7 linked regions of the Homo sapiens genome follow. The protein of the gene in region 4 purifies or fractionates together with the protein of the main gene of each other region. This does not show direct contact. Each region holds a gene or a part of one and is shown on either strand. Other genes may lie near its edges. The genes, in order: THOC7, FAM120A, ODF2, NCBP3, KRT6C, METAP1 and ACIN1.

Region 1 (3,500 bases), on a different chromosome or scaffold from region 4:
AGTTTACCACCCAGTTAACCACTGTTACTACTTCATAAAAAAAGTACTACATGTCAGTAAATTCAAGAAGAAATGCACAATATGAAAAATGAAAACCTTCCCCTCTTTACCTTCCGTAATAATTCCTCTCCCAGAATGATTTTTAATGCCTCTAAAAGGTAAAAGTATCTTCTCTGGAGCCTGACTCCTGAGTTTGAGTTCCATTTCTATTCCTTACTTCCTGTGACATTTAATTTTTGGCAAGATGCTTTTTCATTGGTAAAATAGGGATAAGAATATCTATAATGAGGCCGGGCAAGGTGGCTCACGCCTGTAATCCCAGCACTTGGGGAGGCCGAGGCGGGTAGGTCACGAGGTCAGGCGTTCAAGACCATCCTGGCTAACACGGTGAAACCCCGTCTCTACTAAAAATACAAAAGAATTAGCTGGGCGTGGTAGCGGGCGCCTGTAGTCCCAGCTACTTGGGAGGCTGAGGCAGTAGAGTGGCATGAACCTGGGAGGCGGAGCTTGCAGTGAGCCGAGATAGCGCCACGCACTCCAGCCTGGGCAACAGTGCAAGACTCTGTCTAAAAAAAAAAAAAATCTATAATGCTGTTGTGTAGATTAAGTGTGTTTATATGTGAAAAGCATCTAAAGCAGTCCTTAGCATATTTAAGTGTTACGTATCTGCTGGCTAGTATACCAGTGGGTATATATGCTTGAAAATTTTATACAGTCATTTACACACTGGTCTGTATTCAACTTCTGTGTACCCATAAAATTTTTTTTAAGTGATATAGTAGGTGCGTATATTTATGGGGTACATGAGATATTTTGATACATGCATACAATGCAAAATAATCACAGCAGGGTAGATAGGATATCCATTGTCTTCAAGCATTTATCATTTGTTATAAACATTCTAGTTATGCTCTTTTAGTTGGTATAAAATGTGCAATAAATTATTGTTGACTATAATCATCCTATTGTGCTATCAAATACTAGATCCTATTCACTCTATGTTTTTGTACTAATTAAGCATCCCCGCCCCTCCCCTGCCACCACACACCCCACAGCTCTTCCCAGCCTCTCGTAACCATCTCTATTTTCTACCTCCATGAGTTCAGTTGTTTCAATTTTTAGCTTATCATGGAGCTCTTTTGAATATAAATCTACCTTATTCTTTTATATCAGTGTGTATAGTCTATTAATTTTTTAGACAGATCCTCTATTGGCATTTAGTTTGTTTTCAGTTTTTTACTCTTCCAAACAGTGTTACAATGGAGATATTTGCATAGATATATTCGCGTACTTGTGGGAATAATTTCTAAAAGATAAGTCAAAAGGTATATGTGTCTTTAATTTTGGTATATCTTGCTGTAATGCCTTAGTAGCTAGCTGTTTTCCCCACTATAATCCTGTCTGAAATTGTTATCCCTTCCTGTGGCTTTCAGTTTGGTACCTACCAAATTTTTTGCCAAACTGCATTTAGAAAGGAAATGCTAATCCTCACTGGTAGATCACAGGATTACTAGTTCACAAAGGCAGGTGAGATTGCAGCCTTCCCTCAAAGGGAACCACATTTGACCTGCAATTTAGCCTTAGCAAGGAGTTACATAACAATGATGCTATTGCCTCTGGTTGTCAAGCCTTGACCTGTCTCTGAAGTTGTTTTGTAATCAAGGTTTTAATGGCAAATATAGGGAAAGAACAATTATGAATTTTGAAAACGTTAGTCTGGGTTTATGAGAAACTCCCTTTTATGCTAAAATGAGAGCACAGCTAAAATGGCTGTGTCATCTGACCAGAGGCCTAGAAATCTAGAGTTGCTCTAGTAACTGTAAAGGAGTCATTTCTTCCTGCCTCTATGTTTATGAAACATAGAGTTTTAAGATCTAAGGACTTTTTGAGGCTTATTTGGTGTCTTGAATAATTTTATATTTCTTCTGGCTATATGTTGGCATATATGTATCCCATTTTGCAAGTAAATATTTACATTTCAGCATAAATGTGTCATTACTGATTTTAAACTGATTTTGAAAGATATTTTGTATGTGCAATTATGGTATAACGAAATCCAGTAGGAAGTCATAAGTTCTAGAATTGTGATAATAGTCTACTGTTAAACCAATCCTGTTTTTTTATGTTTTCAGTGGTTAACATTTAGGCATATTGGATATGAGGCATTTTGATGAGCAAATATGTATCTCATGCCCCTGCCTCATAGACAGTATACTCTAGACAATGTGTGGTCATATTACTCACTAATTAATACGTGAAGTTAATTGCTGCCTCCTTTTCTTTCTTTTTTTTTTTTTTGAGACGGAGTCTCGCTCTGTCGCCCAGGCTGGAGTGCAGTGGCGGGATCTCGGCTCACTGCAAGCTCCGCCTCCCGGGTTCACGCCATTCTCCTGCCTCAGCCTCCCAAGTAGCTGGGACTACAGGCGCCCGCCACTACGCCCGGCTAATTTTTTGTATTTTTAGTAGAGACGGGGTTTCAGCGTTTTAGCCGGGATGGTCTCGATCTCCTGACCTCGTGATCCGCCCGCCTCGGCCTCACAAAGTGCTGGGATTACAGGCGTGAGCCACCGCGCCCGGCCCTCCTTTTCTTGACTCAGATTCACACTCCACAGTCTTTCCAGGAGCTAGATGGATGGTATTATCCAGCCATTGTCCTACAAGCCTAAAGCCAGGTGGAAAACCACCATCCTCACAGCAGGTGTCAAGTATTTTGGTTTAGAAACTCTTTCCAGATGATGTTCATCCTCATAGTAAAGAAAGTAATTATGACAAGGAGTGATGTTGATAACATAAAAAAAATAACAAAAAATCTGCTAAGCCATCTTTACTGTTTTTACAGGATAGACCAAAGCCCAGCAGAATTACTAATATAAGCATTCAAACTGCTTACAGAGGGTTTCAAGCATGATAATTTGTGAAGTCAACATGTATAGTAAACAAAACATATTTTAAGTGTGTTCATTATGGAGCTAATTGATAAGATGTCATTAAAAATAATAATGCTCATGGCATTTGTGTTAGGAACTATCAGCAGCAGTCCATCTTTAAATTTAAAAAGAACAGAGGCTATTCTCAAACTGAGAGCTTACCTTTTTGTTTTATTCTGTTTCTGTTGGAGCTGTGCTCTGTACTTTATACATGTTATTTCAATAATTCTTGTCCACAGAGTTTTCTAGGCAGCAACTCTCTGTGCACAATTTCAGCTAGAAACGCCATGACCTTCCCAGTAAATTTGAGACAGAAGCAAATTTGTAAGGAATCCTAACTGGGCAAAACTTGATATGCATAAATGCCTAATATGTATCTACATAGATATATCTATAGATAAATCTTCAACATTTACTCTGACTTTTATAGGATGATACAAGTTGTGGATTAAATTTTTTTTTTTTTTTTTTGAGACGGAGTCTCGCTTTGTCACCCAGCCTGGAGTGCAGTGGCGCGACCTTGGCTCACTGCAAGCTCCACCTCCCGGGTTCACGCCATTCTCCTGCCTCAGC
Region 2 (3,500 bases), on a different chromosome or scaffold from region 4:
AAATGTGTTAAATCACATAAGTATTTCTGTTCAAATGAGGCCAGTGTTAGGTCAATATAAGGTAATGGTAGGACTACTTAGTGGTGCTGTTTTGTTGAGGAATATTCTGTTAACTTTGGAGAGTTTTACTAAGACTTTGAAAGAATTTAATACTGTAGTACTCTTATTCCATAGAAATTACTCTTTTCAATTTAAAGATTGAGAACCTAGATCCCCGAGGAATTCAGCTATCAGCTCTCTTCATGAGTGGAGTAGACATGGCCTTGTTTGCAAATGATGCATGCGGACAGCCAATCCCCTGGGAACACTGTTGTCCTTGGATGTATTTTGATGGGAAGCTCTTCCAATCCAAACTCCTCAAAGCCAGCCGGGAAAAGACCCCACTCATTGACCTCTGTGATGGTCAGGTATGCTGCGGGGCCGGGTGGCTGCCTTTAACTGCAATGAAATAAAGCTCACTGGTTAAATCTGTCATCTTTTATACCATATTTATCATCCTGTGTTTCAAGATTCTGTTTTAGGTTGGGCCTGGTACTGAGTGTCACTAAATATCACTTCAGTACCCAGGATGAGCCAAGCTCCTGATATAACATTGTTTCTCATTATTTGTGGTAGTAATGTTCTAAAATTCACCTTGAACGCCAAATTAGTGAATACTGACCATTGCTCCTAGGGGCAATACAAGGTGCTGGGTTCCTTCAAGGCTCTGGTCACATATTTTTGTTAACCAATCAGTATATAATCTTATTTCATGTGCATTTTCGTTAAAGACACCTTATATAATATGGATTGTTGATTCATTATTATTGAACTCACAGCCAGTAGCTTCTGTAACACGTATATTCTCTGTAAGGCACATCACAGCCTCCTTATGCATTTAGGAACACCAGACAGCACTTCAGCACTACACTTGGAGACCATTTTATTTGTTTGTTTGTTTTGGTTTTTTTTTTTTTTTTTTTGAGATGGAGTTTCGCTCTTGTCGCCCAGGCTGGAGTGCAGTGGTGCGGTCTCAGCTCACTGTAACCTCCACCTCCCAGGTTCAAGTGATTCTCCTGCTTTAGCCTCCCTAGTAGCTGGAATTACAGGTGCCTGCCACCATGCCCAGCTAATTTTTGTATTTTTAGTAGAGACGGTGTTTTGCTATGTTGGTCAGGCTGGTCTTGAACTCCTGACCTCAAGCAATCCACCCACCTTGGCCTCCCAAAGTGCTGGGATTACAGGCGTGAGCTGTTGCACCCAGCCAGGGACCATTTTAAACAGTGAAATTACCAACAAAAAAGGACAAAAATGTGAAACACGTGGCACTTAATAAACTGTGAAAAGGATTCTTGTTTTCAGTATGAGCTGAAACAAGAAGGCAAGCGTTGTCTTGTTTGACCTCAGCTGGGGTCAGTGCATCAGGCAACAAAAATCTTTGCCGTGTTCTGCACAAGTCTGCAGACGACCAGAAAACTGCCATAAGTATTGATTTTTGTGGTTACAAATAAACGTTAGCAAGTAGGAGAATTTGCAGACATAGAATTCATGAATAAAGGGAACCAACTGTATAGTTGATAGATCTTATTTCTTTAGTGCTCATTTAAATTCAATTAAAACCCCCTGTGGATGGCATTTTCACATGCTGGTCCTTGTCTTCCAGGCTGATCAGGCTGCCAAGGTAGAGAAGATGCGCCAGAGCGTCCTCGAGGGGCTCAGCTTCTCCAGGCAGAGCCACACGCTCCCTTTCCCGCCGCCACCTGCCCTGCCCTTCTACCCTGCCTCTGCGTACCCCCGGCACTTTGGGCCTGTCCCACCCTCTCAGGGCAGGGGCAGAGGCTTTGCAGGTGAGTTGATTGGGACGTATTCCTGTGGGTAACAGATGCCAGATTCCTGTAAAGAAAGTGCAGCCCTTATAGGCAAGCCCATCTGCTGTGTTGACCTTGTCACTGTTGGTCTTGGAGATCCTGCAGCAGCAGTTCTTCAAGTCCGTGAGGAGCAAGTTTAATCCTGGAGATAGGGGAGAGGGACCTGCTGATGCAGATGCAAAAGCTGCACCGTAAAATCTGTCAATCAAGCTGAAAACTCTGCTCACATTTTAAGATATATTTGTTTCTCATGTGTAAGGGAAAATAAACCCACCCAGGTCAGAGAGAGCCATCTTCCAGGACTCATCTCCCAGGGCCCTTCCTGAGCCCCATGCTAGTGCCCTGTTGAATGACCCACTGCAGGGAGGGTGGCCTTACAATACTGGTCCCCAGGGACCATGGGCACAGGACAGTGAGGTGACAAGAGGGGCCAGGAGACCCCTCCATGGCAGCTGGAGGAGGCAGGGGCCACTCTGCCTGAATACCCAGCAGGGCCCTGAGTCCTGTCCCTTACACTTCTCCCCTCTCTCTCTACCCCGGGTCCCACAGGCGTCTGTGGCTTTGGAGGCCCCTATGGGGAAACGGTAGCAACAGGCCCTTACCGTGCCTTCCGTGTGGCGGCAGCATCGGGACACTGCGGAGCCTTCTCAGGCAGTGACAGCAGCAGGACTAGCAAGTCCCAGGGCGGTAATTATACCCACCCCTTCCCAGAGCTTCTGCCTGCCAGCACTTCCTTCGCTCCATCGTCTGGCGCCTTCCTTCCTCTACTGTCCTCATGAGCCCCTCCTCCAGCAGAACGGCCTTTCTTCTGGGTCCCCGCTCTGACCCTCATTGACCACTCCTCCTGAGACTCTCTGCTCTCAGGTCTCAGCAGCGGCTCTGCTGTGGCCAGTCTCTCCTTTCAGGGTAGACCACTGAGTGTCCACCTAGAACAGAACCTTTCTGTGCACCTGGGTAACCTGACCATCGCCTCGTGTTCATAGGATGAGCTGCTAATAGTGGCGTTTCTTTCCCAAGCAGCCATCTTTTGGTAAAGATTATCATGCTTGTATAGAAAATGCTAATGGTCACAGAATTCCTGACATAAAAAGTCTGTCACAGTTTGTTTCGCAGAAACATTTTTAAACAAAGATCTAATGTTGGGCATATAAACAAGGCAGTTTACTGTAGATTCCCAGTGCTTCTCTTTGCATTTGTATTAGGCTTGCAAAAGAGAAAAGGGTCTTAACATTTAGCATAGGAAGCAATGTCTTGTGATGGTGCTGTAATTGGAAGTCAGTGACCTGTATCTTTGTCCTAATCCCACATTTTGGGACTGCAGATCTAAATCTGCCCATCAAGTCACATAACAGGATTAACTGTTCAGATGTGATTTTGGAGTTGCATTGAGGATGGGCAAGCCTTTCTCTCTTGATCAACAATGTTTTTCCAACTCAGTTACATGGGATAGTTAGGGAGGCCAGCAAGGGAACTGTGCGGAAAGGTGACTTGCAGATTTGGCGACGGGTCAGCCCCTCTGTCTGCAGGTCACCTCTCCTTTCCCTGGTGCAGCTGCATGCCTCTCTGCCTCCTCTGTCTGCCCACCAGCCTCCTGCAGTGTGCTACTCTGCTCTGTGACTGCTCCTCATGCAGCTCGCAGCCATGTTTCCTCTC
Region 3 (3,500 bases), on a different chromosome or scaffold from region 4:
GGTCGCGCCACCAATATCAGCTACACAGAAGGCTGAGGCAAGAGAATTGCTTAAGCCCATGAGGCGGAGGTTGCAGGGAGCCAAGATCGCGCCCCTGCACTGCAGCCTGGGCAACAAAGCGAGTCTCCATCTCAAAAAAAAAACAAAAAAAACGGAAAAGAAAAACGAAAAGAGGACTGGCCGGGCCTGGTGTCTCACGCCTGTAATCCCAGCACTTTGGGAGGCTAAGGCAGGCGGTTCACCTGAGCTCAGGAGTTGGAGACCAGCTTGGACAATGTGACGAAACCGTATCTCTACCAAAAATACAAAAAATTAGCCCAGTGTGGTGGTGTGCACTTGTGGTCCCAGCTACTTGGGAGGCTGAGGTGTAAGGATGGGTTGAGCCTGGGAGGCAGAGGTTGCAGTGAACCAAAGTTGTGCTACTGCACTCCAGGCTGCTTGACAGAGTGAGACCCCATCTCAAAAAAAAAAAAAATGGAAAAGTGCAGGGATGTACACCCATCAGAAGTGTATTGCTCCATGAATTTTCACAAGCTGAAGGTACCTGTGTAACGATCACCCAGCATCCTAGAAGCTGCCCCTGGCTTTTGTCTATGTCACTCCCTCCCCATCACAAGGAGTAAGTAGTCACACTTTCCCATATATATATATATATATATATTTGTCATTTTAAAAAATATATAGTCATGTGGCCGGGCGTGGTGGCTCACGCCTGTAATCCCAACACTTTGGGAGGCCGAGGCGGGCGGATCACAAGGTCAGGAGATCGAGACCATCCTGGCTAACACAGTGAAACTCCGTCTCTACTAAAAGTACAAAAAATTAGCCGGGCATGGTGGCGGGCACCTGTAGTCTCAGCTACTCGGGAGGCTGAGGCAGGAGAATGGCGTGAACCTGGGAGGCGGAGCTTGCAGTGAGCCGAGATTGCACCACTGCACTCCAGCCTGGGTGACAGAGCGAGACTCCATCTCAATTAAAAAAAAAAAAAAAAAAAAAAAAAAAAAAAAAAATATATATATATATATATATATATATATATATATATATATATAGTCATATATCAATTAACAATGGGGATATATTCTGAGAAACATGTTGTTAGGCACTTTCATCATTGTGCAAACATCATGGAGTGTACTTACACAAACCGAGATTGGTAAAGCCTGCTACACACCTGGGCTGTATGGTATAGCCTATTGCTCCTAGGCTACAGACCTCTACAGCATGATGCCGTACAGAATACTGTAGGCAACTAACACAATGGTAAGTATTTGCATATTGAAACATAGTAAATATAGAAAAGGTACGGTAAAAATACGGTGTTTTGGGACCACTGTCATATATGCAGTCCATTGCTGACTGAAATGTTACGTGGCACATGACTGTTTATACATTTTCCTATTTTTGTCATTTTAAGTATTAAAAGTAACTTCTTTTCTTCTAAAAGTAATATACATACCTGGATGTGGTGGCTCATACCTGAAATCCCAGCACTTTGGGAGGCCAAGACGGGCTTATCACCTGAGGTCAGGAGTTCGAGACCAGCCTGGCCAACATGGTGAAACCCCACCTCTACTAAAAATACAAAAATCAGCTGGGCATGGTGGTAGGTGCCTGTTATCCCAGCTAGTCGGGAGGCTGAGGCAGGAGAATTGCTTGAACCTGGGAGGCGGAGGTTGCAGTGAGCCGAGATGGCACTACTGCACTCCAGCCTAGGCGATGGAGTGAGACCCTGTCTCAAAAAAAAAAAAAAAAAAGCAAAGTGTTTACAGCTTTGCATAAAGTTTCCTGAAGCATATATGCATTTTAAAATATTTAAAAAAATATTTAAAAAGCTGAGACTACAGGCACCTGCTACCACGCCCGGCTAATTTTTTTGTATTTTTAGTAGACACGGGGTTTCAGTGTCTCGATCTCCTGACCTCGTGATCCGCCCGCCTTGGCCTCCCAAAGTGCTGGGATTACAGGCATGAGCCACCGCTCCTGGCCCTAAAATATTTTTTATACTGACGTATTTAAAAAGTATTGTATTTTTTTAATACAATACTTTCCAGGTATTGTACCATGTGCATTTATAATATTTTTCTACATCATCAAAATAACTGATTACTCCTAAGAGCATTTCTTAATATCATACAATATCTGGTCCTTTTTCCAATTTACCCACTTGTTTCTACAATACCTTTTCAGCAGATTCATCTACCTTTGTAACTAATCCACTATCAGCTATTCATATTCATTTAAAAGACTTTTGACATATTTCATTTCTACCCTAGGTATAAAAAAATGTACTGCCCTAAACTTTTGCCAACTTTGGGTATTATTAATGTTTTTGCTGATTTGTTATATTATTTCTTTATGAGTATTGTTATTTTTAGAGACAGGGTTTCGCTCTGTCACCCAGGCTGGCATGCAGTGGTGCTATCATAGCTCACTGCAGCCTTGAACTCCTGGACTCAAGGAATCCCCTGCCTCAGCCTCCTGATTAGTTGAGATCACAGGCATGTGCCACTACACCCACCTGATTTTTTTTTTTAGAAGGAGTTTCGTTCTGTTGCCCAGGCTGGAGTGCAATGGCGCAATCTTGGCTCACTGCAACCTCTACCTCCCGGGTTCAAGCGATCCTCCAGCCTTAGCCTCCTGAATAGCTGAGATTACAGGCATGCACCACCATGTCCAGCTAAGTTTGTGTTTTTAGTAGAGACGGGGTTTCACCGTGTTGGTCAGGCTGGTCTCAAACTCCTGACCTCTGGTCATCCACCCGCCTCAGCCTCCCAAAGCGCTGGGATTGCAGATGTGAGCCACCATGCCCAGCGCTAGCTAATTCTTTTACTTTTATAGAGACAAGGTCTCGCTATGTTGCTGAGGCTGGTTTTGGCTTCCCGCCTCGGCCTCCCAATATACTGGTTTTACAGGGTATCCAGCCTATGTTCTTTATTTTAAACTTAACATTGTAGCCCAAGCTTTTAATTTTGATGTTGGGAATTCTCCAAAACCATCATTTAAACATGGATAGGTAATGTTCCATCACAAGGGTTCAGAGTATGTTCTTCCTGGGGTCCCCGAGTTAGCTGTTACAGCTTTTCCCGTCTAATCAGTAAATAAGCCTCCAGTGGTGGAACTCGTGGTCAAGGTTCTGCCTTCTGAGTTCATGTGTTTCTCCCTCCTCTACATCAGAATCCACCTCATTGCCTGGAGATCACGCCACCATCTTCAGAAAAGCTGGTCTCAGTGATGCGGTTAAGTGACCTCTCTACAGAAGATGATGACTCAGGTCACTGTAAAATGAACCGTTATGATAAGAAGATTGATAGTCTAATGAATGCGGTTGGTTGTCTGAAGTCTGAGGTGAGGGAGGTAGGGGGCTGGGATAGCTACTACCCTGAGGATGTGCAGGAGCACCCAGGTGGATTTCCTGCCTGGTCCCTCAGCCTGCGTCTGCAGGCCTTCAGGCCTCCTCTGCAGGGTTGCCCCGGGCTTCAGTTGCCTGCCCCGGGAGG
Region 4 (3,500 bases):
ATGGAGAATACCAGATGATGATAATAAGCCACATTAACTGGGCACCTGCCATGTGCCAAGCGCCACTCTATGGACTGTAACATTTTGTTAGAGTCTCCCAGCAGCCCTATAAGAATTCCTGTCATTGGCCGGGCGCAGTGGCTCACGCCTGTAATCCCAGCACTTTGGGAGGCTGAGGCGGGTGGATCACAAGGTCAGGAGTTCAAGACCAGCCTGGCTAACATGGTGAAACCCCGTCTCTACTAAAAATATAAAAATTGGCTGGCCGTGGTGGCAGGTGCCTGTAATCCCAGCTACTCAGGAAGCTGAGGCAGGAGAATCATTTGAACCCAGGAGGCGGAGGTTATAGTGAGCCAAGATTGCGCCACTGCACTCCAGCCTAGGCAACAGAGTGAGACTCCGTCTCTCAAAAAAAAAAAAAAAAAAAAGAATTCCTGTCATCTGCCTTTCCAGATAAGGAAACTGAGATTTTTAGAGGCTAAATAACTTGCCCGAGGCCATAGAGCTAGAAAGTAACAGATTAAGATTTGAATCCAGGTAACTAGGCTTCAGAGCTCATGCTCATAACCATGAAACCAATGGTCCTCAATCCTGTCTGCACATTAAAAGTACCTGAAAAGATGGCCTGGCGCAATGGCTCACACCTACAACGCCAGCGCTTTGGGAGGCCGAGGCGGGTGGATCACAAGGTCAGGAGATCGAGACCACCCTGGTCAACATGGTGAAAACTCGTCTCTATTAAATACAAAAAATTAGTTGGGCATGGTGGTGTGCGTCTGTAGTCCCAGCTACTCGGGAGGCTGAGGCAGGGGAATCACTTGAATCTGGGAGGCAGAGGTTGCAGTCAGCTGAGATCGTGCCACTGCACTCCAGCCTGGGTGACAGAGCAAGACTCCTTCTCAAAAAAAAAATAAAAAATAAAAATAAATAAATAAAAATTACCTGAGAAGATATAAAAAGAATAACTATCAGCCGGGCGCAGTGGCTCACACCTGTAATCCCAGCACTTTGGGAGGCCGAGGCGGGTGGATCACAAGGTCAGGAGTTCAAGACCAGCCTGGCCAAGATGGTGAAACCCCATCTCTACTAAAACTACAAAAATTAGCTGGGCACGGTGGCAGGTGCCTGTAATCCTAGCTACTCAGGAGGCTGAAGCAGGAGAATCGCTTGAACCCGGGCGGCAGAGGTTGCAGTGAGCCGAGATCGCGCCACTGCACTCCAGCCTGGGCTACAGAAAGAGAGGAAAAAAAAAATGCTGGGCAGTGGCCAAGGTGGGTGGATCACGAGGTCAGGAGGTCAGGAGCTTGAAACCCTGTCTCTACTAAAAAATACAAAAAATTAGCTGGGTGTGGTGGCATGCACCTGTAGTCCCAGCTACTCGGGAGGCTGGGGCAGGAGAATCGCTTGAACCCAGGAAGTGGAGGTTGCAGTGAGCCGAGATTGCGCCACTGCACTCCAGCCTGGGTGACAGAGCAAGCCTCTGTCTCAAAAAAAAAAAAAAAAAGAAAAGAAAACCAGTAACTATCCCTGGGACCTATCCAACTCCAACTAATATAAAGTGGTCTGAGATGGGCAGCAGGGTTCCCCAGGGCTCAGGAACACTATCCTAGGCCATGCTGCCTCCTGGACAAAGAATCGACTGAAATAAGCAAGCTTCCCCAGCTGACATCCCACGGCCGACCTTACTGCCTTTTTTAGGAATATCTTTAGAACCGTGAGACTGGAGTTGTACGTTAAAAAAAAAAATTTTTTTAAATTAAAAGTTAACCCCAAAAGTGATCCTATTAAGGTAAGTATCATATTTCCATTTTACAGACAAGGAGACTGAAACTAACAAGGCTCAAGAACTTGTCCTCAGTCACAAAGGAACTGAGACTAGATTCTACGAGGCTTTTGCGCCCTAAAGAGCTCCAACAGATGTGAGAAAACACTTCAAGTGGGTGAGCAGAGATGCTCCACGGGGGAAGTGACACCTGACCAGAGATAAAGCATGGGACAAGGAAGGGCAAATGCACAGAATGAAAGGCATGAGCCGTATCAGAGGCAAGCCGCCTCAAGGAATGCTCTCGGGACCAGAGGTCGACAGGTGTGATAAAGCTATGACGCCCTCGCGGTAGAGTTGTGAGAGAGACTCACAGGTATGCTTGCGCCCGGCTGTGCAGGCACATGAAGGTCAAGCCACACCTGGCCTTCACAGGACTTCTCCTCAAACAGAAACCCCGCCCATGAGGGAAGCAAGGGCGTGTTTCTGACTTGAACTGGTCATGCAGGATAAAGAGTGAAGCAGCTTCCAGAGTTCAGCTCTGCATCCACACTGCTGGGCCCATTAGGACTGACTGAGGAGGGACGCAATATCAGTCGATAGCACCACATCCTACATTACACAGCAACAGAGCAAAGGAGTTAAGGGCAAGGCTCTAGAGTCAAAGAAACTGGGTGTGAATCCTGACTCCACCTTTACTAGCTACATGACCCTGGGCAATTTATTAAACTTCTTTGAGCCTGCTTCCTCTTTATAAAATAGGGATAAAAATAAATTCCTCATACAGTTGTTGTGAGCAACAAAAAAGAAAGAAATATATAATGTGCTTAACGAGTCTAGTAAAAAAGCAAGTTCACAACAAATAGCAGCTATTCTTTCATTCATTCAATATATTTACAGAGCTTTTGCTTTTATCAACCAAACAAGGCTAGAGAAGCTCATACAATACAGCACAGGCCTTTAACATGCATTCAGAAGGCTGCCTACTAAACCCTTTATGAACACCCAAATTTGCAAATAACACAGAGGGAAGCCTTCTGCATTCATGGATTTATATTATAGTAGAATAATAAATAAGAACATAGACTCACTAAAAAAGTAGTAATTTTTCCTTTTATTTATAAATTGCTTTAGAAAACTGCGGCAGATTACTATATACAATAATTCGGGGTGAGTTCTAGGGAGCAAAATACCCCAAAAAAACACAAAGATCAAATCAAATCACAAGTCCAACTGTAAGCGCAGGCTTAAAACTCAGGGCAGGATTAGTTTAGCTTTCTCTGACAACAGGATGTTACTGAGTGGTTTACATATATCAGATATTCAGATTATCAATAGATTCAGAATTTTTTTTTTTAAGACAGAGTCTCGCTCTGTCGCCCAGGCTGGAGTGCAGTGGTGCAATCTCGGATCACGGCAACCTCTGCCTCCCAGGTTCAAGCGATTCTCACGCCTCAGCCTCCCGAGTAGCTGAGATTACAGGCGCCAGCCATCACTCCCAGCTGATTTTTGTAGTTTTAGTAGAGATGGGGTTTCACCATGTTGGCCAGGTTGGTCTCAAACTCCTGACCTCAAGTGATCCACCTGCCTTGGCCTCCCAAAGTGCTGGGATTACAGGCATGAGCCACCACACCTGGCCAATAGATTCAGATTATCAACAAAAGTGTTAATGGCTTTTCCCCACCAATCTCAAAATTGCTCTAACTCCCCGAAAAGAAGGTCTCACTGTGATACACTT
Region 5 (4,237 bases), on a different chromosome or scaffold from region 4:
TTTAAATAGGCATTCTACTACATCCACATCTGGAAAGTCTAAGTATATGAGAGTCTTATTAAGCTTCAAGTTTTAATGATCAGTTTGCAGGAAATATAGAGGACACAGTAGCATCTTAAATGAAACACTGTGAGTAAGCAATGAGGAAATCCCAAAGACTGAAACACTACTCAGGACAATTAACCTGGTCTTATCAACAAAAGAATTGTAAACAATAAGGAAATAAATGAAAAAGGACATTGGAGAATTGAATAGACACATTGATGTTAATAAATACACAAATTGGCTGGGAGCAGTGGCTCATGCCTGTAATCCCAGCACTTTTGGAGGCTGAGCCAGGTGGATCACCTGAGGTCAGGAGTTCGAGACCAGCCTGGCCAACATGGCGAAACACCATCTCTACTAAAAATACAAAAAATTAGCCGTGCTTGATGGTGGCCACCTGTAATCTCAAACTACTCAGGAGGCTGAGGTGAGAGAATCTCTTGAACCTGGGAGGCGGAGGTTGCAGTGAACCTAGATCGCACCACTGGACTCCAGCCTGGGTGACAGAGAGAGACTCTATCTCAAAAAAAAAAGAAAAAAAATTACCCTTCCCCACTGTCCCCTCTACACCCCCTCTCTATGCTCTTTTCTTCCTAGTAAAGCATTACTTTCTTTCTAGCTCAGTGATGCCACTGGATGTGATGTCTTCTATCTCCTTTTGTGTTGTCATCTTTATTAGAGTCAACTCCTTGAGGGCGAAGACTTAATAAATACATACATTTTTAAAATACAAAATAATATTTCAGTTATATTTCTAAAAGGTCTATCATTTAAAGATTAATATTGAATTAATATTGAATTAAATCCCAAATATTTTTGGGATTTAAAAAAATTTAACATTGATAAGGGAACCGGGTGGAAATATACAAGAAATAAGACTGGCCATAAGGTAATCATCATGGAAACAGGTAATAGGTATATACAGGCCCATTGTGTTCTGCTCCTCTACATGTTTGAAATTGCACACAGAAGGAAAAATAATTACAGGAAAAATGTTAATATTTCTGTTAAGGCATTTGCAATACAGTGCTTGTGATCTCCAACATCTCTGCTGGAAGAAAGTCAGGCTGGAAAGAGGAAAGCACTCACAGCATGTTGATAAACAGCCTAGCATGCAGAACCTTTGCTGAAGACAGTGACTAACTTCAACTTCATGAACTGAGAATGCTCTTACTGTGCTGAAATCTCGAGTCAAAGCTGGAGGCAGGAACATTTTCCCTGACTAAAGGAAGTGAAAAATGCCATCTCAGCATTTCATAACTTTTCTGATCCAGGTGTGATCTCACTATTTGTAAAGCCCAGCCCTTCCCAACCTGCAAGCTCACCTTCCAGGACTGGGCCCAGCCCATGCTCTCTCATAATATATAAGCTACTGCTGGAGCCCGATTCCTTGTCCTGCTTCTCCTGCCTCTCGCCTCCAGCCTCCAACGCTCGCCACAGCCCTCTCATCTCCTGGAACCATGGCCAGCACATCCACCACCATCAGGAGCCACAGCAGCAGCCGCCGGGGTTTCAGTGCCAACTCAGCCAGGCTCCCTGGGGTCAGCCGCTCTGGCTTCAGCAGCATCTCCGTGTCCCGCTCCAGGGGCAGTGGTGGCCTGGGTGGTGCATGTGGAGGAGCTGGCTTTGGCAGCCGCAGTCTGTATGGCCTGGGGGGCTCCAAGAGGATCTCCATTGGAGGGGGCAGCTGTGCCATCAGTGGCGGCTATGGCAGCAGAGCCGGAGGCAGCTATGGCTTTGGTGGCGCCGGGAGTGGATTTGGTTTCGGTGGTGGAGCCGGCATTGGCTTTGGTCTGGGTGGTGGAGCCGGCCTTGCTGGTGGCTTTGGGGGCCCTGGCTTCCCTGTGTGCCCCCCTGGAGGCATCCAAGAGGTCACCGTCAACCAGAGTCTCCTGACTCCCCTCAACCTGCAAATTGACCCCGCCATCCAGCGGGTGCGGGCCGAGGAGCGTGAGCAGATCAAGACCCTCAACAACAAGTTTGCCTCCTTCATCGACAAGGTGAGCCAGTGCCATGCCCTCCATCGGGCACTTCAGGGTCCCCAGACCAGAAGAGCAACACCTTCCTGCTAGGGAGACCTAGGAGGGAGGGAGAAGGGGATTCAGCCCAGCTCTGCAGAGAGTGCAGGTGGCTCTCGGTGCACAGGAGGCAGCACAGATGGGCATCACTCCCCCATGGGATCTCTGGAGTGGCCCTCACTCCTGCCTAGGGAGAGCCGTAACTTTTCATAACCCTGAAGCACAGATGAGGCCATCAGAGAGTGGAGTAGGTTAATTCTCCCCTCTGAAGTGTTTAAGAGATTACAAAGCAAATGCCAGGAGTATATGGGCTGGTAAATTACACTCTGGGGTCTGGGTAAGAGGAAAAAGATTTAGAAAGAAAAGGAAAAGATAATCTGGCTGGATTAAGAAAAAAAGGGACATAGAAACAACTGTAAAACATGGATAAATGCTAATTAATTTTAAAAACAGAGAATGACCATAACATCAGAATATTTGAGAGGAGACACTAAATGGGAAAGTAGACTGAAATGTAATCATGAGTCAACATATAATATCTCTCCTAACTAAGATCCTATCAGTAAAAAAACTGTGTACAATATATCAGGTAATTAGTATTTTTAAACTAGATTTGTGATTGTGCCTGGAAAAAGAAGAGAAGAAATGTTGAAACTCACTGATGATCAATAGCTTACAGCGTGAGAACACCTCAATGGTCCATGGGACAATTTCTCTAGTGAGACTGGTGGGGTGCAAAGGAGAAGGGGTTGGGGGAGCAGAGCTCAGCCTGAGCCTCTCCACATGCACTGTAGTAGCCCAGCACCATGGGGACCTCCAAGACCTGCCAGGAAACTGGATACCAGACACTTTTTCTTCCTTCCTTTGCCTGGAAAATGACCATCTTGCTTCCCTTCCAGGTGCGGTTCCTAGAGCAGCAGAACAAGGTTCTGGACACCAAGTGGACCCTGCTGCAGGAGCAGGGCACCAAGACTGTGAGGCAGAACCTGGAGCCGTTGTTCGAGCAGTACATCAACAACCTCAGGAGGCAGCTGGACAGCATCGTCGGGGAACGGGGCCGCCTGGACTCGGAGCTGAGAAACATGCAGGACCTGGTGGAGGACCTCAAGAACAAGTGAGGACTCCATTTCCTGCAGCACACACTTCAAGACTATTGGGTGACCAGGGCCAGATGTGTGTAGGATTCCTAACAACCCATGTCCATGGAAATGAAAAGCACAAATTAGTCCCTAGGAGCAAACCTGCAAGAACCACAGATGGTTATGGGAGGATGGGGGGATTAAAGAAGTGGCAAATTTAGTAGTAGCAAAACTCATCTCTTTGGCTCTCTGTGGCAGGAAAGCTCAATTAGAATATATTCCATTCAGGAAATTGTTGAATCCCAAGCTGCTTTTCTGTTTCATCCTACCCACTGGCTCATATGTGTCCTATGCCTTTCTTCCTGTAGATATGAGGATGAAATCAACAAGCGCACAGCAGCAGAGAATGAATTTGTGACTCTGAAGAAGGTGAGCAGATGAAGCCGGGGGTTCAAATTCATTTAGAAGGAGAGAAGTGGCTCTGTGTCCTCGCTCCCCTGGGAGAGAATTGGCAGGAGGACTAGAAGATGGGTAGATTGGAAAGGTGAGCTCAGGTAACTCCAGGTTGTTGGCTCTTTCCCCAGGATGTGGATGCTGCCTACATGAACAAGGTTGAACTGCAAGCCAAGGCAGACACTCTCACAGATGAGATCAACTTCCTGAGAGCCTTGTATGATGCAGTAAGCATCTCCACCATCCTTCTGTTTACTCTGATGGGGTCTGCAAAGGGGAGAAGATGTATAGGGTTGGGTATCTCTGTAAATGTCAGATGTGAAGTTGATCTTATGACCTTCTGTTCTGCAGGAGCTGTCCCAGATGCAGACCCACATCTCAGACACATCCGTGGTGCTATCCATGGACAACAACCGCAACCTGGACCTGGACAGCATCATCGCTGAGGTCAAGGCCCAATACGAGGAGATTGCTCAGAGGAGCCGGGCTGAGGCTGAGTCCTGGTACCAGACCAAGGTGAGCAGGGAGTGGGCAGCTGCTGAGGAATCCTTGTGTCCATCCTGGAATACCAGAGGACTGCAGACTTCACTGGGGACATCCCCTGACAGGAAGCTGGGGTCCTCTCACAGGACATGCACTCTG
Region 6 (3,500 bases), on a different chromosome or scaffold from region 4:
CCTGGCTTAGATGGCATTTTAATATTGATGGAATTAGACTCTTTGTTAATAAGATATCTTAAAGGAACTACCTATCAAATGAGGAAGCATGAGCCCAAGTGTTAGAGGCTGCAGATAATTGACTGATTGTGATGCTAGCTGTGAATGATAGCCGAAATTTAACTATGACACTATTTTTATTAGAATTGCTACTGCTTTAGTTAGGGTATCTGTTCATAAAGTTCCATAGGTTTTGAGGCCAACCCTGTTTTTCAAATATAAAGCCTGTTATTTTTATTATATGTAGAATGTGTGAGGTTTTTCAGGAATGTATGTGTTGTGCTAGAACCAAAATATCTATATTGTGATGTTACAGGTTGATTGAAATATGTGGTTTAAAAATACTCAATGTGCTCTCTAGATACATTATAATGGTATAATAGTATATAATATATAGTATAATAGTAATCTATATTCTTAAACATGGGGACAAAGAGAAGAATGAATATTCACAAATAAGAGAAAAGCAAATGAGTTTTAAAAAAACAGGTGTAGAGCAGTGTAAATTTTTCTGTTATTCCCTAGCAGGAGTAAGGAACTTGTAAAAGATAAGTGAAAATGGTATTTTGTAGCAATGTAGCAAAGTTTTCAATTTAATGTTACTAACTCTGGTAATTTATTTTGCATGATTGTGTCCCACATACATTTTTCTTTTGCCACAAGTGATACAATTACTATAAGAGTATAAAAACCCACTATCTGGCTTATGTTACATGGCCATATTCCTGCTCTCCACAGTGAGTTCAGTTACATCTCAGGGAGCTTCTGTTGGGCAATAACTATCTATCCATTGGTGTCTAATTTGAGAATGCAGAAGTTGTCTTTTTCATTAAGTTGCTAGATGCTGTCATGTTGGAAAAACACTTGAATTTTGAAATGAAAATAAGTATGGTCTTTATATTTGCACATTCTCTTGCAGTGGATATCACTCTTTATCGCAATGGTTATCATGGGGACCTGAATGAGACATTTTTTGTTGGAGAAGTGGATGATGGAGCACGGAAACTTGTTCAGACCACATATGAGTGCCTGATGCAAGCCATTGATGCAGGTCAGCCTCAGTGTTGAGCACCTATTGGCAGTCCTGTGTGTTGATGGGCCAAGAATGACTGGGCGCTGCAGTTCTGTGCATTCCTTGTACCTTCCAGGTTGCCCCTGTTCTACCTGAGTTAGCTTTGGTTGTTAGCAGTAATGGGTAAAAGGATGATCTGGGAATCTCTTGGTGGTGATAGACCAGATGATTGGTTAGCATCCTTTGTTTCTTCTGTGATTTATCTTCCTTTTCTTTGCCTGATAAATGAAGAGGACTGTGCAGATGGTTTTTTAGTGCAACTTTTATTCTATTTTTAAAATTCTTTCCAGTACATAAATATTATGTTCTCCTCATAAAAAATTAAAAGTGAAGATTATGAGTGAAAAATGTGTGATCCTCCTTTACACTTGCCTCCCCTCTTATCTCTCTCTTCTCTCTAGAGATATCCCATTACCGTTTAGGTTTTTTCTCTCTCCTGTGCATTAATGCACACACGTATGTGTATGTGTTAAATTAAGTTAAATGGAATCATAATATTTTTAATGTGTAACTGGGCTGTTTTTTCAACTATCATAGAGATCTTTTCAAGTTAGCATATATACCTACAGACATAGATTTACCTCATTCTTTTAATGGCTATGTATTATATTCTATAGTATTACAATTTGTGTAACTATTCTGTTGGATTTTGGTGCTTTCCAGATTTCTTACTATTGTAGTAATGGGTAGGGGTGTATTTCTGGAGGATTTTTCTCAGGCTGTCTGTCTTTGTACATATGAACAACTTATCGAGGCTTTTTTGTTTAATCAGTATCTTATGGGGATAAGAGAAGGAAAGGGGCTGGGCATGGTGGCTCACTCCTGTAATCCCAGCACCTTGGGAGGCTGAGGTTGGCAGATCACTTGAGGTCAAGAGTTCGAGACCAGCCCGGCCAACATGGTGAAACCCTGTCTCTAATAAAAATACAAAAATTAGCCAGGTGTGGTGGCGGGCGCCTGTAATCCCAGCTACTCGGGAGGCTGAGGCAGGAGAGTTGCTGGAACCTGGGAAGTGGATTGTGCCACCGCATTCCAGCTTGGGCAACAGAGCGAGACTCCATTTCAAAAAAAGAAGAAAAGAAAAAAAAGAAAGGAAAGTTCTTAACAGCATCTTGTTGGAGTTGTTAACAAACTGTTAATAAATGGGCAAACAGCCTTCTGGTTAAATCCTTACCATATCAACTTTATTACCAGTGTGCTACCTGCAATCCTCCCCAGTCTCTCCAAATCTTGATGTCATCAACAGAATAGTGAACAGGACAGAGTTCTTAGACAAACATACAGTTATCTCTAATAATGTTGATCCAGTATTTTTATTGTTTTTAGTGCGTTCTTTAATGTGTATGGGAGATGAAATTTTTACTCAAGTTGGAGGAATGGAAATGAAGGAATATGATATTTTTGTGTATCAGGTGAAATTTTGAAAACTTATTACTCATTGTTGATTATTTTAAAACATTAATACAGGAGGTGGAATTGAAGAAATTTAATGTTTAATTTGTCATTTGTGAAAGCTTAAGTTTGAAATAATTTTTAGAGTTTCTGCCAGATAATATAGTCAATATTTCTATTCTTTTTGCTTCTCTGTGAATCAACTGAAGAAACAAAAAAAAAAAAAAAAAAAAAAGAAAAAGAAAAAACCAGATAGTTAGAATGCTGTTTTATATGACGTATGACTGGAACTTGCCAATAGTTTTCATAACAGTAGCCAGGAAGGAACGAAAGTGGCTTGATCTTTTTTGGAAAGTGCTTTGAATTCCTTTGTATATATCATTTTTGCCCCTCATTTTGCACCTCCCTTACTCCCCCAGGTAGAGGGTTTGAAAAGCTGTTGAAATTAGGCTTCTTAAGTAGGGTTTCTTAGTCTATGCACTTAGTGGCTTTTGGGCCTGATAATTTTTTGTTGTAGAGACCTGTTCTATACACATAAGATGTTCCACAAGCATTCCTGGTCTCTACCCAGTAAATGCCAGTTACACCACCACCCTGTGTTTGACAACCAGAAATATTAATATCTCTAGATACTACCCTTGGGGCCGCAGTTGGAGCAGTTTGAAAATTAGGGAAGACTTCCTCTGTCACTCTTTCTATGCAACATGGATTACAATATTGTTCCCCCTCCCACCCCAGGCTGATAGGAAGGCCTGGATAGGAATGAAAGAAAGTAATTATGAAAGTCAGCATGATTTTTCAAAACCAGAAACCTCCTTCCTTCTCCCCCCAAAATCAAGCTGCAAAATACAGTTAAGAGCAAGTAAAAATGTTAATTAAACTGATTCCTTGAGCTATTTACCCTGAAATGGATGGGAAAGATACATTGTATCTGAACCTCAGTCTGGGAATCAGATAGGCTGAGTAGGAGAGTAGAGAGAGTTAAGGATCCCCAGAG
Region 7 (3,500 bases), on a different chromosome or scaffold from region 4:
TTAAGACCATGGTGAAACCCCGTCTCTACTAAAAATACAAAAAAAAAAATTAGTCGGGTGTGGGGGCGGGTGCCTGCAGTCCCAGCTACTTGGGATGCTGAGGCAGGAGAACGGCGTGAACCTGGAAGGCAGAGCTTGCAGTGAGCAGAGATCGCGCCACTGCACTCCAGCCTGGGCGACAGAGCGAGACTCCATCTCAAAAAACAACAACAACAAGAACAACAACAACAAAGTCAAATAACTGAGTTGCAATTTTAAAATTAGTATGTACAAGCAAAACAGCCTCTTTATCTACCTACTGTGAATTATATGCTATTTATTGAATTATAATGTTATTTTTGATACTGTAAAACTGCAGTGATAGGATTTCTGGATGATTACTCCTCTGGAAGAACTTGTAGTAAGTCATCAAAGAGATCTGGAGAAATGAACAGGGCTGTTCAGAAAGTTCTGGTCATCACTGTTTTGCAATAAAAGCAGAAACTGGAGGCGCCTCAGACATGAAACAAGAAATTAGTCAGCAATGCAAAATATAAAGAGATGAGGAATCTCTAGTTCCTTGGAAAGAGCTGATGTGATGCAGACAAACTTCTGAAAAAGGTGATATCTTCTATTATAAGAACATGGCCACAATGAATGTCTTAGGCCAGATGTTAGTAACACGTGTAGACAGTGAGCGCTTTAGCTAAGGGTGGAGCTGATACTGATAACAGGCTAATAAATACATTTCAGGATTCGAAAAACAAGTCAGGGTAAATATTAGATTTCCAAGAGTCCAAAGCCAGAAGGCTTCACAGAAAGGAAAAGGCAGTTGCTAGACAATGCAGGATATATTAAAGTGCAGAATGTTTAAGGGTTATAGAGGAAATAGTTCTTCATCCTAGAAAACAAATTCCTGGGTAGGATTTGTGGGACCAAAGTAAGGAAGCCAGAGATCGAAGAAAAGCCTGTGGCTAAAAGGTAACCTTAGGTGTGAATAAGAAGCAGGAATGAAGAGAATACAGACCTGGAAACAATGCCAAACCTAAATCTGACTCATGTTAGACCTGTAAGTAAGTTACCTAGCATTTCTCTAGAATTTCCGCATCCAGGTTTTAATATGGAGAAAACGGAATGAGGGGCATACTCTATAAGCCAAAGGCTGGCTAAAATCACCTTTGTTAAAGAATCAATATTCTGAATATGCATTTAAAAATGTATTTTCTTAGTTTGAGCTCTTTTTGAAAAAATTAAGGACGGTAAGAATTTCTGTACACACAGTCATGATATAGAAGGAAATTCAGACAATTTATGACTATGGTAGGTGGATAATGAGTCCTAACACCTTAGAAATATCTGAAGAAAGTGATGGAGACATAAGAGGGAAAGTCAGACAGGATTTTATAAACCAATTATTTCTTTGAGACATGGTTTCACTCTGTTGTCTGCCACCTTGACTGCTAGGGCCCAAGCAATCTTCCCACCTCAGCCTCCCGAGTAGCTGGGACTACAGGCATGTGCCATCACAGTCAGCTAATGTTTTCTATTTTTTTGTACAGATAGGACTCACTATGTTGCTCAGGCCAATCTCCTGGGAGATCCTCCCACCTCAGCCTCCCATAGTGCTAGGATTACAGGTGTGAGACACCACACCTGGACAAACCAATTCTTCCTTCCTATTTGGAATTTTGCCAATAGCATATAAACAGGAGGATGCTGGAATATAAACCAAAGATCTTGATAAATTATAACACTGAAAAACTCTTCCTTCAGTTAGTCATTCATAAAATGAATTGGTCAACAGAACCACTCAGGGACTTTTTAAAAAATGTAGAGCCCCAGGACTCCCATTCCTTGAGATTCTTTGGGTAGGGGCCAGGAATCCATATTCTTAAACATAGTAATATTAAAACAAATAAAAAATCTCCCTCAGGTGCCAGTAGCGTTTAGAAAAATGTTAGTAGGAAACTTAATCAAAAATTGTTATTCAAGAGAGAACCCCAAAACATTCAAAGCCAACAAATAAGCTGCCATTGCAATGGCATACTGGCATATGGCAGACTGAGATTCTATACCTGGAAGAATCTGATTTCTGGACAAACACTAGGGTTAATGCTGATTCAACTAAGCACTGATAGAATTCCAAATGGCCACTCCATTCAGGACCTTAACTAAATTTTGTACAACATCTATAATGGGATTCTTATCTAAGCCAAGATCAGAGGTAGAAAAGTTTATGGCATAAAGGACACTGAAGAGCATTTACGGCAATTATGAGCAGTACTCTACAATTTACCACATTCATATTTTCCAATTTATTTTTCACCTTTTTTTTTTTTTAACGTCTGGGGTTTTTTTTTTCCTCCATCAATCATTAGCCATGGGCAGGGTCTTACTGATGACATAAAGCACTGAAAAGATTGGCTACCCTTACTCTAAATCTTTGCTTTTGAAATCTATTTCAGAAATCATTTCTCATTTTCATTTCGAATTATATTAAGAACTGACAGCCTCTCTTTTTAAAGAGAGGTCCTTATCAAATCATGGTCCTATTAAGAATTTTCAATGGTTCCCCCATTACCTATAGAACTAAAAAAAAAACCCTCATACTTACTGGCCTGGCATTTAAAGCCCTCTGTGTATCACCCTCATCTACCTTTTAAATTGTTTTGCTGACTATTCTTGAATGTGAAATACTCTACTCTGGCTAGATTAGTCTACTACCTCTCCTTTAAAAATACCATTTTCATTCCTATCTCTCTGACTTTGTTCCTTCCTAAAAATATCTTCTTGTATCCTCTCTGCCAAACCATTTCTAAGGCTCAGCTCAAATCCTGTATCTCCTTATGAGGCTTTCTCTAATCACTGTAGTCCTCAGAGCTCTTCCACTCTTTTGGTTCCCTATGTCTGTATCATTGTCACATACTATCTTCTGTTGTTCGATTTATGTGTAATTGTTCTCTCTTCCTAACAGACTTTATGCTGTGCTAACTCCCAATATACTCTCACAGAGATATGTATGCAGTAGGAATTCAATAAATTTTTTTTTGTTTTATGTGAGAAGAAATACCGACAATTTTAGAAGAGCTTTCTCTTTCCTCTCGGCTTTAAAATCAAGGGGGAAAGGGCGCAGGGAGCAAAGTGGATCAGCTGAGGGTCTACTACTCTCGTATTTCAGGAGAAAAGAGGTCCCTAAGGAACTTAATAATTCCAAAGTATTGGCCAGTATTTTCTTACTAAAAGATTTCTAGAAATGTCTTTCTGGGTCTAAGACTAGGATCAAGAAAAACAGGGACTGAGTAAAACAGGACCTTAAAACTAGACTCAAAGGCTCTCTATTTTCTCTAGCCTTTTGGAAAATTTCTTTCCCACCATTAAATGTCTCCTAAAAAATCTATTTCCATGAAGAGTCTATCGCTGCTCAGCCTTTTAACTAAAATCAAGTGTAGTCCATGAAGGAATTCTGTATTAATCAGAAGAGCTGGAAACCTCCATACATCCTAAAAACACTGATTATGGTG

What was found.
Region 1: the proteins of NCBP3 (region 4) and THOC7 purify together in Homo sapiens (co-immunoprecipitation; 3 studies listed by BioGRID and IntAct, with this or other methods). This does not show direct contact.
Region 2: the proteins of NCBP3 (region 4) and FAM120A purify together in Homo sapiens (co-immunoprecipitation; one large-scale study listed by IntAct). This does not show direct contact.
Region 3: the proteins of NCBP3 (region 4) and ODF2 purify together in Homo sapiens (co-immunoprecipitation; one large-scale study listed by IntAct). This does not show direct contact.
Region 5: the proteins of NCBP3 (region 4) and KRT6C purify together in Homo sapiens (pull-down; one large-scale study listed by IntAct). This does not show direct contact.
Region 6: the proteins of NCBP3 (region 4) and METAP1 purify together in Homo sapiens (pull-down; one large-scale study listed by IntAct). This does not show direct contact.
Region 7: the proteins of NCBP3 (region 4) and ACIN1 purify together in Homo sapiens (co-immunoprecipitation; 2 studies listed by IntAct, with this or other methods). This does not show direct contact.

What each region holds. Positions count from the first base shown.
Region 1 is NC_000003.12:63,853,806-63,857,305, reverse strand, and holds part of THOC7 (THO complex subunit 7), read left to right. Parts: intron 1-3,500. UniProt on the Homo sapiens protein: Component of the THO subcomplex of the TREX complex which is thought to couple mRNA transcription, processing and nuclear export, and which specifically associates with spliced mRNA and not with unspliced pre-mRNA.
Region 2 is NC_000009.12:93,556,185-93,559,684, forward strand, and holds part of FAM120A (constitutive coactivator of PPAR-gamma-like protein 1), read left to right. Parts: exon of another isoform or gene 1-174; intron 175-197; coding exon 198-407; intron 408-1,642; coding exon 1,643-1,826; intron 1,827-2,396; coding exon 2,397-2,534; intron 2,535-3,500. UniProt on the Homo sapiens protein: Component of the oxidative stress-induced survival signaling. May regulate the activation of SRC family protein kinases. May act as a scaffolding protein enabling SRC family protein kinases to phosphorylate and activate PI3-kinase.
Region 3 is NC_000009.12:128,466,006-128,469,505, forward strand, and holds part of ODF2 (outer dense fiber protein 2), read left to right. Parts: intron 1-2,919; exon of another isoform or gene 2,920-3,177; coding exon 3,178-3,348; intron 3,349-3,500. UniProt on the Homo sapiens protein: Seems to be a major component of sperm tail outer dense fibers (ODF).
Region 4 is NC_000017.11:3,836,247-3,839,746, forward strand, and holds part of NCBP3 (nuclear cap-binding protein subunit 3), read right to left. Parts: intron 1-3,500. UniProt on the Homo sapiens protein: Associates with NCBP1/CBP80 to form an alternative cap-binding complex (CBC) which plays a key role in mRNA export. NCBP3 serves as adapter protein linking the capped RNAs (m7GpppG-capped RNA) to NCBP1/CBP80.
Region 5 is NC_000012.12:52,471,006-52,475,242, reverse strand, and holds the start of KRT6C (keratin, type II cytoskeletal 6C), read left to right. Parts: upstream 1-1,437; 5' UTR 1,438-1,505; coding exon 1,506-2,045; intron 2,046-2,962; coding exon 2,963-3,177; intron 3,178-3,510; coding exon 3,511-3,571; intron 3,572-3,726; coding exon 3,727-3,822; intron 3,823-3,946; coding exon 3,947-4,111; intron 4,112-4,237.
Region 6 is NC_000004.12:99,044,221-99,047,720, forward strand, and holds part of METAP1 (methionine aminopeptidase 1), read left to right. Parts: intron 1-958; coding exon 959-1,090; intron 1,091-3,500. UniProt on the Homo sapiens protein: Cotranslationally removes the N-terminal methionine from nascent proteins. The N-terminal methionine is often cleaved when the second residue in the primary sequence is small and uncharged (Met-Ala-, Cys, Gly, Pro, Ser, Thr, or Val).
Region 7 is NC_000014.9:23,085,137-23,088,636, forward strand, and holds part of ACIN1 (apoptotic chromatin condensation inducer in the nucleus), read right to left. Parts: intron 1-3,500.